Linked DNA regions of Homo sapiens: region 1 is linked to region 2. Evidence: fine-mapped expression QTL. A gene starts in region 2. The other region holds a variant in brackets. All regions are shown on one strand. Distances are between the middles of the regions.

Region 1 (2,500 bases), 52 kb before region 2:
GTCAGACGTCTGTGTGTGTATGTGGCAGGGACAGAACAGGGATTAGGGATGTGAGGGGGTAGAGTTTTCAGAATAAAGGGAGAGAAAATTCAGCAAAGAGTTCTCCTTCTTAATCTTTCTTGACTTAAAGTTTGTCTGCCCTTAAGTGTCTTCTGAGCTGGAAAAAGACATATAGGAACTGGCCGATGCCGATGCCTCTTTTGCAGTGTGTGAGAGGCTGAAACAGAAGTTCTACAGAAGTAGGTTAGCTGTAAGGAGCTGAGGATTGAGGAGTCATATCTGGGGGATATTCCTGCCACCCTCAAGTCCAGGGACTTTCTGCACTCAAAAAACTTACGCTCATGACAATGACTGCCTCATTCAAGAAAACCCAAGCTGACTGGCAAGAAGCCAGCAGCCTGGGTACTTGTTGCTGCAGCTTAGTAAGTAGCAGAAGAGCTCATCCTCCTCCTCTGGAAGAAGCCACTTAACAGGTTCTCATCCTGACTCCTAAATTCCTTAACAGTCCTTTACTCAGGAATAAAACAAGTCCAAGAAAACTTATCTGTCCCACAAATAGTCCTGGAGGCAGTGGAGTAAGATAGGGAGAGCAAATTGGTGTCTGCTCTTGAGTATCTTGAGGGAATGGGTATCTAGAGGCAGCAGGATGAACTGGCTTTGATAGCAGAGACTTTAAAATGTGTGGACCATTAGTTGTCTTTGGATGTGCTCCCTAGAGGCTGCGCCTGACACAGGGAGCTGTGTATACATGATTTATTAAAAGGAAATCCTCTTAGGAGAAACATATTAGCAGGATAAACACAAGAAAGAATGCAGTTACAAGTGGAGTCTCAATCAATCCCAGAGGAAATTCTGGGACTTCAGCCTCAGCTTGACCTATGGGGGGGCTCTGGAATGTCAGATTTCTCCTGATCCCAAGTGTGCTCTGGGGCTTCCATTGCAGCCAAGAGAGAGCATTCCCCAGAAAACTCCAGGTGAGGAGTCTCCAGTGGCCCAAGGGTGATCCTCCAGAGGAGGTTACACTGCCGAACTGGGACATTGGCACCCTGGATTTGAATATCTAGAGAGGGCACCCAATGGTCATACTAATGT[T/C]TGCCATAACAGTCTCTTCTAGGTCTAGACTTGAAGCATATGGAAGGGTCCTTGGGCTAGAGCCAACCCAAGCCCAGGCTGACTCCCTTTTAATACTTCTAATTTTCCCTGAAGATCTGGTCTTCTCCCTACCACCACTACCCTATTACATAAGAGAAAAGGATTGGAGAATGCTCTTGAAAAGAATGTGATGCTTTCCCATACAAGGAATATACTCAAGGAAAAATTTCATGGCACAAAATGCTGATTCTGTCCAATTTATCCCATGAATAAATTGTGTACACATATATATATGATTCTTTTGTTTTTCCTGTGCAGTTCCTTCCTTTTTTCAGGCTCAACCACTTAATTCAGCTTTAGGATACATTCAGCTTATTCATATCAAATATAAAGTGGGAGAAAAAAAGGTATGTAACAAAGATTACAAAAATAAGGCATGGCAGACAAATCACTACATAATTCTATGCATTATACCTTAAAGTAATGTATTGTAAAATATATGTGTCCAAAGCAACTTTTAAAATTTTTGTATGGTTTTCTACTTGAGACCTTTAAAGCATCACTAAAAATGTATACATTTAATGAGAAAACGATGACATTATTGATTCAAATTAGTTGTTTCAAAGCCTGATGATCCACTGATTTACTCTAAAAACTGGTTAAAGCAATCCAGAAGTCACTGGGTAGCAGAAAACTGCTACCGCTTCTCACATGATATATTTCAAGTACTTCAACTATTAACTATATTATTCTATTTAGACTTTGGTGGTTCCGAATTCTCTAAGGTAATTATCTTAATTTTCTAATATTTCCCTCTCATTTTTCTCTCTTATTTTAAATATCCCCTGTTGTACAAGCCAGAGGATATTAATTTCCTTTGTGGGTAGTGCTTGGACTTCTCTGATTTTAGATCCCAAAATCATTAAGAAAAAGCTAAGAGGTTGGCATGAGAGGTTGGATGGAAAGCATCTATCTGTGTTTGTCAGTAGCTCTCGATGTTGGCTGCAAATTGGAATCACCTGGGGGCCTTTGACAATCACAATGTCTGGACCCATTTCCTGAGAACCTGATGTAACTTTTCTGGGTTAGGGCCTGAACATTGAGATTTCTTTTAAAAGCTTTCTAAGTGATTATAATGTGCAGTCATGGTGAAGAACTACTGATTTTATATGGGGAGTCAGTGAAGGTGGTGAGGGGCTGTGAGGTTGAAATATTGGAAATGTTATCTGGATTTCAAACAGTAGAGTATGATAAAAATTTAAAAACTGGCTCTCCAGGAAAAAAGAGACATCCTAATATGATGTATTTGCCAATATACCATGGGTTTTCTTGGGCTGGGATGAACTTTCAGAAGTTTTACAGTGAGCATTTTTTTTTTTATGAATTTAAATTGGTTCTAGCTAAGCAA
Region 2 (3,028 bases):
AAAAAACTTAATTTTGCTTGATTTTCTTTCATCTAGGAGTCATTTAAAGATGTAATGCCACCTTCCTTGCCAAATTTGATTCTGTCTTCCTCACTTATTTTGGTCAACAGAACTTCGTCTTTCCAGTTCTTCCAGCCAAAAATCATCCTTGACTCCCCACTTAGGACTTAATGCACTAGCTGTTTCCTCTGGCAGCTCTTTCCTCATAATAAATCAGTATAATTCCTCTGAACTGAGGCGATCCAAAAAAAATGAGCAACTTATACTTGCAAAGTTACTTTATGTATTTTATTTGATTGTCATCATAGTTAGGAGACTCCACTTTTTCATTAAAGTTTAAAAGAACGCCTGAAATCAACCCTTAATACCGTAAACACGGAATCAGTATCAAAGTGTTCCTCTGCTATAGGTAAGCAGCACTCCTCAATAAAAGATCAAGGTGCCTTCTGGTGCTTCAGGGGCTTCATCATTAGGAATCTTTCATTTAAAAAGTGTTCCTCCCACTATACCAGTGAAACCAGCTTTAATACAGAGAAATCAAAACAAAGAAAAATACAGAAAAGTGGGCAACAGCTTTTGAGTATTTTCTTAAAATTTTCCATTTTTCGACTTAGCGCAATAATATAATAAAGGAACATGGGATCCTTTATTATTGTTACCATAGTTTTTAATATCATTTTCATAAAGCTAACCATGTTTATTTAGCCATTTTCTTAGCTTTTGCCATCATGGTTCTTTGAAAATTTTCTTTGTAATTGCTGCAATGATTTTGGAGATCACAGATGCATGCTACTTGCTCAAGTTTATTCTTGGAAGTCGTATTACCAAATTAAAGGTTCTCAACATTTCTCGGGGTACTGCAATTTTTACATTGCATATGATAATTGTTATTACTGAGATCTACATTCCTTTCATCAATTCACAAATACACAATCACAGACATCTTGAGATCTATCATACGTCCAGCTGCGTTCATTTCACAAAATCAGAAGTTAAGCCTAAAGATCTGAACCGAGAAGCCGGACCTCCGGTCTATTTCTCCCTCCTGGATCCACCCCGACTTATTAAGCAGTTAGACCGACCCTTCCATACTCATTCAAGGCAGTGCAGAGCTTTTGCTCCCCTGCCCAGTGGAATCTACACTGGTCCCAGCCTCTCGTCCAACTCCCGTAGGACGCCAAGCAATACGGAGTTCGAGAAGCTCAGAAATCTCCTGAGCCCCACCAGTCCACACTAGGTTGCAAGCCCGCAGCACCTACGCCACGGCGTCAAACCGGAAACCAGAAAAGGTGAAGGCATCGGACGCCCCTCGCCCCAGCCCGGCCACCAGCGACACTATCCTTCACTGACGCGCGATGCCGGCCTTTCAGCCCAGACTCATCGAGCGAGGATGCAGCGCTGAGAGGCTTCTAAGGCTCAGGCCCTGCAAAGCCCAGGAGCCGGCTGTAGGTGTCCTTGGCGAATGCCAGACCGCGCGCACCGTCCCAGCAAGTCCCGAGCGAGTGTGGGACAGGCAGCAAATCAGTGCCCCCTGGCCAGGCAGAACGAGTCGAACGTGGAAGTAGGGAGCAGGCGGAGGCCGGCGCGGAGCTGCAGTTAAGCAAGCCGGGTCTGGCTTTGGGCCCTGGGCCTTCCAGCCGGGGACTCTGCGCCTGCGCCCGCCTGGCCGCCGCCCGCTCTCCCGGCGCGGCAGCTGTCTGGGCTGCTGCGCGCCGCCTAGGTGTCTGGGCGATCTATGGGCAAGAGCAAGGGCCACGATGACAGATTACGGCGAGGAGCAGCGCAACGAGCTGGAGGCCCTGGAGTCCATCTACCCTGACTCCTTCACAGGTGACTCCCGCGGCCGCAAGCCTGTAGCCGCCCCGAGGTGGAGTAGGACGGGCAGGAGCTGCCGCAGCTCTGGGCCTCATAGGTTGGGGTGGAGAAGGGGACCTTGAGGCCGCGCGGCCACCTTGCCCTCCACTCCTCAAGTTCTTCAGTCACTTACCAGCAACCCAGTGACTTTTTCTCCTTCTCTGCTTGTTCCCGGAAATCTAAAAGTCCGGGTGATGTTGGAGGGTGTCAGGCCTGAAAATTGAGTCGGGATTACTTTGGTTTCTGTGTAACCTACAGCAACCTGAGATTTATAATACATTAAGAGAAAAAATACTCCAAGTGCGATTCGTTTTTCCACAGCCGCAAGAATGTTAGTTTTCACATTTTTAGCTTTATTAAGGTAGAAACTGTTTTTCATACGATGCTGTTTTAGTTTATAGGATTCAGAGTGCTGTTTTCAGTTACTCAAATCGGTTTTGAGAGTAGCATAGTCCCTGAAGTCTGTCGGGTTTCTTTTCTTATGAAAAAAAAAAAAATCTGGCATTCAGCAGAATGCCTAATGGATAATGTGGCCCAAATTTCCGTTCTGCTATAAATTCATAGGTTGTTAGATTGGAAGGGAGATTAAACATCATCTATCCTGGGGCTCCTGCTCCAAGCCAAGGTCATGGGGGTTCAGGAAAGCTAAGTGGCTTGCTCTGTACTGTCCGCCAGCGAGTTAGCGGCAGGGCTGGTACTGAGTTATACGTCCAGAACGCTTGCCTGTTCTTTCACTTTCCAGACATATGGGACTTGGGATTCAGCTCCAGCTGAGATTGAGAGAGCAGAAGATTACTTGGTAGGTTGGGCTAATGTAAAATATTATAATGAGAAGTTCATTAGGTATAATTTAGAGGACGAGATTTCTCTATTAAGCCATGCTTCGGATGATTATAAAAATGCTACATAACTATATCAATATGGCTCCTCTGAGATTTGAGAAGCGGTCAAATAAAGCCAATATGAGTGAGTAGAACCTAGGTGTGTGCATTTACATTCCCCATCCTTTCCTTTGAGTGTTGCCTATCGTTGATAGTCAGAATTTATAGTGTAAGGTATATTACTTTAACTTATAAATTCCAACCCCTCTCCCTTTCATTGTTTAGCTTAGTTTTCTTGGCTTCACCTTTTGACCACTGCTTGCAATGGTAGCAAATTTTGTTCTGCTTTGCCA

The links.
Region 1: its variant is fine-mapped to the expression of RWDD1 in whole blood (INTERVAL, PIP 0.94).

What each region holds. Positions count from the first base shown.
Region 1 is chr6:116,518,455-116,520,954 of GRCh38, forward strand. All of the region lies in intron 3 of TRAPPC3L (trafficking protein particle complex subunit 3L), which reads right to left. CALHM5 (calcium homeostasis modulator family member 5) reads left to right here. Exons shown (of 2, transcript NM_153711.5): 2 at 1-2,500. Among named protein-coding and RNA genes, the nearest start is that of CALHM5, 8.1 kb to the left of the region's middle. The variant T/C (reference allele first, on the strand shown) is at 1,093.
Region 2 is chr6:116,569,826-116,572,853 of GRCh38, forward strand. It overlaps RWDD1 (RWD domain containing 1), which reads left to right and starts at 1,679. Exons shown (of 7, transcript NM_015952.4): 1 at 1,679-1,830. The coding sequence starts at 1,758. RefSeq lists enhancers at 1,074-1,253, 1,284-1,613, 1,834-1,933 and a silencer at 1,654-1,733.